Linked DNA regions of Homo sapiens. The protein of the gene in region 3 purifies or fractionates together with the protein of the main gene of each other region. This does not show direct contact. Each region holds a gene or a part of one and is shown on either strand. Other genes may lie near its edges.

Region 1 (2,269 bases), on a different chromosome or scaffold from region 3:
CAGGAAAGGGGGTCCCACCCACAACCCACACTCACCCTGGAAGGCAGAGCCTCTTCTCCCATAAAGCCTGGCCCAGCCTGGAGCTGAAGCCCGGGGCCGCCACCTGAGAGGGCTTGGTTCTGTCTGTAGAGCAGGGGTCTGAATAGCCTGGTGCCCTGGACCAGGTGACCCGGCTCTGTGCACTGCACCTGCTCCTATCACTGAACTCTCCCACAAGGCGGGGACAGACGAAGAAACTGAGGCTTGATGAGTGACCCCACTGCAGAGCCCCACCGTGGGTAGGGTGCCCCGACCTGCACTCTGGCTGCTGGGCTCCACGGCCCAGCTGTGTGCCCTGAGTGGTATCCTGGGGACGATGCCACACAAAGCCTGCGGAGCCGTACCGTGCCTGACACCTGGGAAGCCCCAGGCCAGCGGTTAGTTACCACAAGGGCTGGCACAGCCCAAGCCTGATGCCTCCCTTGACCGCCAGCCCCACGCAGCACTCAGCCACACGGAGCTCCATGAGATGCCTGCCATGACAGGCGCCACAAACCTTTCCTTTATTGCAAACATGTCCCAGTCCCGGGAGGCTTGGGAAGAGTGGGAACCAGGGGAACCCAGGGATGGGATTCCACTGAAAACAAACCGTCCTGCTGTCCTGTCGAGGGCCCCCACCCACAGGATGTAGCCATGGGACAGCCACTGAGGGTCCAGGAAGAGGGGCGGCAGAGCAGGGAGGCAGGGACAGGGAGGGGTCGCCCCAGGGCAGTGGCAGGGCTGGAACTCGTCCCTAACATCCCTGAGCCCCAGCAGGTGCCCTGTGTTAGAAGCGAGAGGGCTGGTGGGGGTGCGTGGACAAGGGGCAGAATGATCCTGCCCCCAACCAGTATCGCCAGGCGCTGGCCCAGTGGCCCCAGGCCCTGGCAGCTGGCGTCTTCCGCTGCCTTCCCTCTGCTCTGCGCGGGGACATTCAGTGCGCTGGGGAGGCCTCGGTGATGGCCCTCTCCACCCGCAGGTACCAGGGCTGGATGTGCGTGTGCTGCATCAGGTCATCGAACGCATCCAGCCCCTCCATCACACGCAGCACGCCATACACCGCCTGGGGCACGAACAGAAACGTGTCACCATAGCTGGTTTGACAGGCATCCAGACCTCCTTCGTTCCCTGCCAGCTGTGTGGCCAGGTCCCGTCCCCTCCCCCCTTGGAGCTCGTGACCCACTCAAGGGCCAACAGCACAGGTGAGGGTTTGAACAAAGCATGTGGGGTGGCTGCAGGTCTCGCCTGCTTCACATCTGTACCCCCTTTTCTGGGCCACAGACCCTGCCCCCCAGCAAGTTTCCTTGGGATAAATGCCCTCCCCTCATCTCAGGTCCTGAGATGGGGGAGAAGAGACCCCACCACCCAGTTTCAAGACCCAGGTCACCCAGGGGCAGGACAGTTTTAAAAATGAGCAGTGGGCCAGGCACGCTGGCTCACGCCTGTAGTCCCAGCACTTTGGGAGGCCAAAGTGGATGGATCACCTGCGGTCAGGAGTTCGAGACCAGCCTGACCAACATACTGAAACTCTGTCTCTACTAAAAATTCAAAAATTAGCCGGGCATGGTGGCACAGGCCTGTAATCCCAGCTACTCAGGAGGCTGAGGCAGAAGAATTGCTTGAACCTGGGAGGCGGAGGTTGCAGCGAGCCAAGACTGCACCGCTGCACTCCCGCCTGGGTGACAGCGTGAGACTTGGTCTCAAAAAAAAAACAAAAACAACAACAACAAAAAAAAACAAAAGGAAAAAGGGCAGTGAAGCCAGGCCAGTGAGACGCCCTCCCAGGGGTTTTCTGGGAGAAGCCTGGAGCACCGGACCCAGCCCGCCTGAGGCTGAAGCCAACTCCAGGGAGGGCAGTGTTGATGGCGACAGGTAGAGCTTGGGCTCTGGTAACACCACCCGGGCCTCTGGATCCAGCAGGGCCCGAAGCCAACCCGTTCCCTGAACTTGTCAGTTATGTGAACCAAGGCGGTTCCTGGTCATCTGTTTCTCTCCTGGAGCCACTTCGAGGCGAGTTTCTGTCCGTGATGGCAGAGAGAGGCAGGTTCCTCTGGCAAGATGCAAGCACCGTCCAGGCTTTCCCTTGCAAACCTCCCCCACTCTGAGGACAGAACCCTCGGTCCAGGCACCACCTGCCACCACCACACTCACCAAATCAGCGAGATTCGGCTTCTGGCCCCCCATGAAGGGCCGGTCCTTGCCCACAGCAGCCACCCACTTGTCAGCAGCCTCATAGAGGTCCTCGCGCACG
Region 2 (3,722 bases), on a different chromosome or scaffold from region 3:
CCGCCCATACTCACCATCACCTGCCCCACCTTCGGTGACTGGGCTCAGCTGGCACCCGCTGTGCCTGGCCTTCAGGGGGCGCTCCGGCTCCAGCTGCGGCTGAACCCCCCGGCGCAGCTGCCCAACTCTGAGGGCCTGTGCGAATTCCTGGAGTACGTGGCTGAGTCTCTGGAGCCACCGTCCCCCTTCGAGCTGCTGGAGCCCCCGACCTCCGGGGGCTTCCTCAGGCTGGGCCGGCCCTGCTGCTACATCTTCCCTGGAGGCCTCGGGGATGCCGCCTTCTTCGCCGTCAATGGCTTCACTGTGCTGGTCAACGGTGGCTCAAACCCCAAGTCCAGTTTCTGGAAGCTGGTGCGGCACCTGGACCGCGTGGATGCCGTGCTGGTGACCCACCCTGGCGCCGACAGCCTCCCCGGCCTCAACAGCCTGCTGCGGCGCAAACTGGCGGAGCGCTCCGAGGTGGCTGCTGGTGGGGGCTCCTGGGACGACAGGCTGCGCAGGCTCATCTCCCCCAACCTGGGGGTCGTGTTCTTCAACGCCTGCGAGGCCGCGTCGCGGCTGGCGCGCGGCGAGGATGAGGCGGAGCTGGCGCTGAGCCTCCTGGCGCAGCTGGGCATCACGCCTCTGCCACTCAGCCGCGGCCCCGTGCCAGCCAAACCCACCGTGCTCTTCGAGAAGATGGGCGTGGGCCGGCTGGACATGTATGTGCTGCACCCGCCCTCCGCCGGCGCCGAGCGCACGCTGGCCTCTGTGTGCGCCCTGCTGGTGTGGCACCCCGCCGGCCCCGGCGAGAAGGTGGTGCGCGTGCTGTTCCCCGGTTGCACCCCGCCCGCCTGCCTCCTGGACGGCCTGGTCCGCCTGCAGCACTTGAGGTTCCTGCGAGAGCCCGTGGTGACGCCCCAGGACCTGGAGGGGCCGGGGCGAGCCGAGAGCAAAGAGAGCGTGGGCTCCCGGGACAGCTCGAAGAGAGAGGGCCTCCTGGCCACCCACCCTAGACCTGGCCAGGAGCGCCCTGGGGTGGCCCGCAAGGAGCCAGCACGGGCTGAGGCCCCACGCAAGACTGAGAAAGAAGCCAAGACCCCCCGGGAGTTGAAGAAAGACCCCAAACCGAGTGTCTCCCGGACCCAGCCGCGGGAGGTGCGCCGGGCAGCCTCTTCTGTGCCCAACCTCAAGAAGACGAATGCCCAGGCGGCACCCAAGCCCCGCAAAGCGCCCAGCACGTCCCACTCTGGCTTCCCGCCGGTGGCAAATGGACCCCGCAGCCCGCCCAGCCTCCGATGTGGAGAAGCCAGCCCCCCCAGTGCAGCCTGCGGCTCTCCGGCCTCCCAGCTGGTGGCCACGCCCAGCCTGGAGCTGGGGCCGATCCCAGCCGGGGAGGAGAAGGCACTGGAGCTGCCTTTGGCCGCCAGCTCAATCCCAAGGCCACGCACACCCTCCCCTGAGTCCCACCGGAGCCCCGCAGAGGGCAGCGAGCGGCTGTCGCTGAGCCCACTGCGGGGCGGGGAGGCCGGGCCAGACGCCTCACCCACAGTGACCACACCCACGGTGACCACGCCCTCACTACCCGCAGAGGTGGGCTCCCCGCACTCGACCGAGGTGGACGAGTCCCTGTCGGTGTCCTTTGAGCAGGTGCTGCCGCCATCCGCCCCCACCAGTGAGGCTGGGCTGAGCCTCCCGCTGCGTGGCCCCCGGGCGCGGCGCTCGGCTTCCCCACACGATGTGGACCTGTGCCTGGTGTCACCCTGTGAATTTGAGCATCGCAAGGCGGTGCCAATGGCACCGGCACCTGCGTCCCCCGGCAGCTCGAATGACAGCAGTGCCCGGTCACAGGAACGGGCAGGTGGGCTGGGGGCCGAGGAGACGCCACCCACATCGGTCAGCGAGTCCCTGCCCACCCTGTCTGACTCGGATCCCGTGCCCCTGGCCCCCGGTGCGGCAGACTCAGACGAAGACACAGAGGGCTTTGGAGTCCCTCGCCACGACCCTTTGCCTGACCCCCTCAAGGTCCCCCCACCACTGCCTGACCCATCCAGCATCTGCATGGTGGACCCCGAGATGCTGCCCCCCAAGACAGCACGGCAAACGGAGAACGTCAGCCGCACCCGGAAGCCCCTGGCCCGCCCCAACTCACGCGCTGCCGCCCCCAAAGCCACTCCAGTGGCTGCTGCCAAAACCAAGGGGCTTGCTGGTGGGGACCGTGCCAGCCGACCACTCAGTGCCCGGAGTGAGCCCAGTGAGAAGGGAGGCCGGGCACCCCTGTCCAGAAAGTCCTCAACCCCCAAGACTGCCACTCGAGGCCCGTCGGGTGAGTACTGGAGCTGGGGCCCTGGGCTGGGTTAGCAGCTGCTTAGGCTGGAGAGCATAGCTCGTCCCCCTGTTTTTACATTTTCAGTTTTTTTAAAAGAGATGGTCTCACTCTGTCTCTGAGCTGGAGTGCAGTGGTGTGGTCACAGCTCATTGCAGCCTTGAACAATGGGGCTCAAGCCACCCTCCCACCTCAGCCTCTCCAGTAGCTGGGACTACTGGCACCGCCACTACCCCTGCCTAATTTTAAAGTTTTTGGTAGAGATAGGGTCTTACTATGTTGCCTGGGCTGATTTCAAACTCCTGGCCTCAAGCTGTGTGCCCACCTCAGCCTCCCAAAGTGTTGGGATGACTGGCGTGAGCCACGGTGCCCTGCCAGTTCTGTTCTTTTTTTTTTTTTTGAGACAGAATTTCGTTCTTGTTGCCCAGGCAAGAATGCAATGGCACGATCTTGGCTGACTGCAACCTCTGACTCCCGGGTTCAAACAATTCTCCTGTCTCAGCCTCCCGAGTAGGTGGGATTACAGGTGCCTGCCACCACGCCTGGCTAATTTTTGTATTTTTAGTAGAGTTGGGGTTTCACCATGTTGGCCAGGCTGGTCTCGAACTCCGGACCTCAGGTGATCTGCCCACCTTGGCCTCCCAAAGTGCTGGGATTACAGGCATGAGCCACTGCACCCAGCCAAGTCCTCCTGTTCGTAATTACTTCGTGACCTCAGCCGTGCCCACCTCTCCGGGGCTCAGTTTCTCCTGTGAAATGGAAACTGACCTCAGTGTTGAAGCACTTGCCATTCTGAGGTGCCTGGACAGGTGAGCACGTATGCCAACTGTGGGTTTCTAGAAGCCACAATAAGTAAAATGAAACAGTTGAAAATTTAAATAGCGTATTTTATGTAACTGATTGGTTAGGAGGACCCGGCCTATGGTTGCACTCATAGCAGAGCAAAATCAGCAAAGAGAAAAGGCACATAGGGTGAAGTCCAAAGGAAACCAGGCAGAAGCTTCCAGAATCCTCTCCCAGTGGGGCTGCACACCACAGGCTTCATTTCTCCAGTAGCAAGTTGTAACAGTGTGTCCCTCATGGAAGCTCATTAGACACAGCATGCCCAGGTTTCCTATTGGGCCATTACATAGGCATCTTCTGCCTGGCACCCACACTCTAGACTCCCCAAAAAGGAGAAATCAGGTGTGTGGTCCAGTCCAGGCACAGGGAGCCCCTCTCAGACAGGGAATGGTGGGAACCCTCTGCCTAAGATCCAAATTCCCAGAGACCAGCCAAAGGCTCACATTTTAAGCAGGCCTTGCTGAGAGGAGGGTCTCTGGCCTGCTGTGCTGTTCTTTGTTTTTTTTCTGAGACAGAGTCTCACTCTGTCATCCAGGCTGGAGTGCAGTGGCGCAAACATGGCTCACTGCAGCCT
Region 3 (3,822 bases):
TCAGAACTGTGTGGGGTTTCCCTGGGGCCTTGTGGAAGCCATGACTTCACAAAGACCCTACCTGTCAGTTCTTGTTTCTGGGGAGGAGGGATCACCTGCACTGAGAATGAGGCAGTTTGACACAGATCACAAAATAAAATCAAAGTCTTTTTGAATAGCCACTCTTGTGTCATCATTTGGTTATTGTCTTTGTGGAGCTACTAGGAAGGTTCTCATTGTCCTTCCTTGTGCTGGACAAGGGGTTTTTATGTGGAGGGCAGGTGAAACAGGAAGAGAACTGGCGACAGGTATACCTCTCCACTCATGAGCCATGGTAGTCCCTGCAGTGGGGACAACACTCAAGACTGTTGAGAGTAGTGGTTCTCGGGCCTAAGCAGGTCCTAGTCACCTAGAGAGCCTGATGAGCTGTGCACATTCCCAGGGCTGCCTGAGCTTTAGCCTTAGGGTTGCTAAGGAAGTTGCCTGGGAATTAGGAGCTGGAGGATCTTCATTTTTTTCAGATTTTTTGAGATGGAGTCTCACTGTTACCCAAGCTGGAGTGCAATGGCACAATCTTGGCTCACTGCAACCCCTGCCTCCTGGGTTCAAGCGATCCTCCTGCCTCAGTCTCCTGAGTAGCTACGTGAACGTGCCACCATCCCCAGCTAATTTTTGTATTTAGTAGAGATGGGGTTTCACCATGTTGGCCAGGCCAGTCTCAAACTCCTGAGCTCAAGTGATCTGCCTGCCTTGGCCTCCTAAAGTGCTGGGATTACAGGCATGAGCCACCGTACCTGACCAGGATCTTCATCTTTAACAAGTTCTGTAGGCAGCAGGGTCCTGGTACGGGTGACCTGCATCCCCTACCTTGAGCCCTGCCTATGGAGGAAGGACTGGCTTCTGAAGCTTTGGAGATAGCAATTGGTGTGCATGTGTGGTGGGTGAGAGCCTGGCTGACCACCACCCTCTTCTACAGTGTAACCTACAGTAGATTGCGTCATGAGAGTGTGTCCGCATCTGTAACGCCATGAAAGTCGTGAGGGTTAAAGGCATGGGCAGACAGCTTTGCACGGTGCTCAACAGCCACCATTTACTGTCATCATTGTGAATACCCAGAGGACAAATCATAAATACCAGTGAATGTTTACTGAGCACTTGCTGTGTGCTAAGTGTTTTCCTTGGGTTATCTCAGTAAAATTTTACAGCACCTAAAGTAGCTGCTGTTAAAGGCCTTTCTGACGGCCTTTCACGGTTGAGCCACAGAGATGTTGAGTAACTTGTCCAAGGTCACACAGCTACTAAGAGATGTACTTTTCCTATTCAGAGACCTAGGCAGGCTGGGAGTGGGAAAAGACAGAAACACTAAGGGAGTGGCTCAGTAAGAGGCAACAATTCCAGTGCCCACCAGGTGCCCCAAATGTTTCAGCATCATGGACAACTCTAGGGGGCTTGGGTTTCCACCCCAGAGACTTGCGCAGGGCAGACTCTACCAAGGTGTGGGTTGGAGTTGGGAGTCGGGGTGAGGTTCCCCGCTGGCTCCAGGCTGCTCCAATGGGGCGGGGGCCGCCCGCAGGGCCGGGCGGGGCTGTGCTGCCATCTGGAGCCGCTGCCGCCGGCGGCCACTGTCAGGGCGCGAGCGGCTGGAGCGCACGCAGGGCTGGAGCGAGTGCAGCCGCCGCCGCCGCCGACACCGCGGCACATGGGCCGGCCCCGCCGCTGCCGTCGCCCCTAGCCCCAGCAGCCCTGGTCTCGCAGCCTCCTGCGGCTCTGGTCGCCCGACCAGCCATGTCTCTCGGCGGAGCCTCCGAGCGCAGCGTCCCGGCCACCAAGATTGAAATTACCGTGTCCTGCCGGTGAGCGGGCCGCGCTGGGGAGGGCTTAGGCACTGGCACTGCCCCAGCCCCAGCCAGCCGCGGGGCTCAGCCTGGGCAGGGGCTAGACCCCCGGGGAGAGGCGAAATTGGCTGGAAAATCACAGCTGATGACAGGGCGAGTAGCTGGTGGGATCGAGAAGCGGGGGGTCTTGGGCAGCCCCACCCCGAAAAAAGGGCTCAGCCTGCGGGTTCAGGGGGTGGGTCGCAGATATCCGGTAGGAGCTCGGCCCCAGGAGGACAAAGTTCTGGGGCGAGCCCTCTTTCCTGGGCCCTTGGAGACAGTGTGGGTGCGTTCGCGTCCAGTCCGCAGAGCCATGGTTCCTGGACAGCGATTTCCGGTGCTGTCCAGAGTGCTGACAGAGCGGACCCCGGCTGGGGGTAGCCATGGGGGACAGAGGTTCGATGCGGGCCCCATGCCTCTCCTCAGTGCCCGGCTCAGAGCCGACTCGAGGCGGGCGGACTCCAGGATGATCCACTCTGTCTGTCTGTTGCTTTTCTCTAGGAACCTGCTAGACCTTGATACCTTCTCCAAGTCCGACCCCAGTAGGCGGCTCCAGGACCGGGAGGGGGAACTTGGGGTCTGGGCGCGACTCAGGGGCGGGTGGAGTCGGGGCCAGGGGTGGGAGCCGACCTGACGTCCTTCCCTCCCCGCCCCCACCTGCAGTGGTGGTGCTTTACACGCAGAGCCGGGCCAGCCAGGAGTGGCGGGAGGTGAGTCCCAGAGCCCCCTCCCGGCCCAGGGCGTCGCCCGGGAATTCCCCTGCCCGTCTGCACGTCCCACGCTGACCCTCCACCCCCCTACCCAGTTCGGACGGACCGAGGTGATTGATAACACGCTGAACCCAGACTTCGTGCGCAAATTCGTCCTCGACTATTTCTTTGAGGAAAAGCAAAATCTGCGCTTCGATGTGTGAGGCCCCGCCTGGAATTCTGGCTTGGCCCGCCCCCGACCTGGATCCGCCCGGAATTCTGGCTGGCCCCACCCCCGCCTCGCCTCCGGCCTGGTTCTTCTCGCAGGCCTCCCTCCCATTCTGAATGGCCCCCTCTAGCCTGAGCCCTGCCCTTTTATGAGATGCGGTCCAGTTCCGTCCCCCGCTCTGGCCCCGCCCACAACTCTGCTCCTATCGCAGCTCCACCTCAGGCCCGACCCCTTCCACACAACCCTGCCCCCAGCAGCCCCTGACTTGGCCTCGGCCCAGGCTTGACCGTCTGACTACTCAGCCCACCCTGACTCCTCCCCAAAAGGAGACCAAAGCTGAATTCGGGTCCACGGCCGCCCATCCCTCCACCCAAAATTTTCACCAAGACTCGGTGCCCGACCCCTTTCCACCCTCTCCCCCACCCAGCCCCACCCCACACCGGTTCCACTCTTTTCCCAGGTACAACGTGGACTCCAAAACCAACATCTCCAAACCGGTGAGCAAACGTTTCCTCGAGGGTTGGCGGAGCGCACAGGAGGCACTTAGATGTGTTCAACGACTCTCAGAACTCCTCCCAACCCTCGACCCAGACCCCATCTTCTTCAGGCCCCCAACCCACCCTCCTGGTCCCTCTCCTCCTGCCTGAGTGTCCTGCCTGTGCCCCCTACTCACTGTTCCTCTTCCTTCTTGGCTGCCACTGCTGGGACCTGCAGAAGGTGAGGCTGAATGGGGCTGGGCAGAGGTTGGGGGTGGGGGTGGTATTGTGGAGAACAGGCTTGGACTGATGACCCACTACAAGGCAGAGATTGCTCGCAGACCCCTTCTTTCACACCCCCTCCATTAAAGCCCATGTAGGGCCGTGGCTCTTGCACCACTCATTCGCCTGGGAACTGCCCTGGTCCTGTGCAGGAGCATCACTGGGGCTAGGCTGGGACTCAGCACTCAAGAGCTTCTGGTCTTGCTGACTCCTTGTCCTGCATAGGATTTCCTGGGACAAGCGTTCCTGGCCCTGGGAGAGGTGATTGGAGGCCAGGGCAGCCGAGTAGAGCG

What was found.
Region 1: the proteins of CPNE9 (region 3) and PTGES2 purify together in Homo sapiens (affinity purification with mass spectrometry; one large-scale study listed by BioGRID and IntAct). This does not show direct contact.
Region 2: the proteins of CPNE9 (region 3) and MAP1S purify together in Homo sapiens (affinity purification with mass spectrometry; one large-scale study listed by BioGRID and IntAct). This does not show direct contact.

The regions. Positions count from the first base shown.
Region 1 is NC_000009.12:128,120,193-128,122,461, forward strand, and holds the end of PTGES2 (prostaglandin E synthase 2), read right to left. Parts: coding exon 2,170-2,269; intron 1,082-2,169; coding exon 953-1,081; 3' UTR 501-952; downstream 1-500. UniProt on the Homo sapiens protein: Isomerase that catalyzes the conversion of PGH2 into the more stable prostaglandin E2 (PGE2) (in vitro). The biological function and the GSH-dependent property of PTGES2 is still under debate.
Region 2 is NC_000019.10:17,725,868-17,729,589, forward strand, and holds part of MAP1S (microtubule-associated protein 1S), read left to right. Parts: coding exon 1-2,305; intron 2,306-3,722. UniProt on the Homo sapiens protein: Microtubule-associated protein that mediates aggregation of mitochondria resulting in cell death and genomic destruction (MAGD). Plays a role in anchoring the microtubule organizing center to the centrosomes. Binds to DNA. Plays a role in apoptosis.
Region 3 is NC_000003.12:9,702,233-9,706,054, forward strand, and holds the start of CPNE9 (copine-9), read left to right. Parts: upstream 1-1,600; 5' UTR 1,601-1,764; coding exon 1,765-1,832; intron 1,833-1,940; exon of another isoform or gene 1,941-1,959; coding exon of another isoform or gene 1,960-2,354; coding exon 2,355-2,395; intron 2,396-2,516; coding exon 2,517-2,563; intron 2,564-2,658; coding exon 2,659-2,762; intron 2,763-3,231; coding exon 3,232-3,268; intron 3,269-3,485; coding exon 3,486-3,488; intron 3,489-3,754; coding exon 3,755-3,822. UniProt on the Homo sapiens protein: Probable calcium-dependent phospholipid-binding protein that may play a role in calcium-mediated intracellular processes. Plays a role in dendrite formation by melanocytes.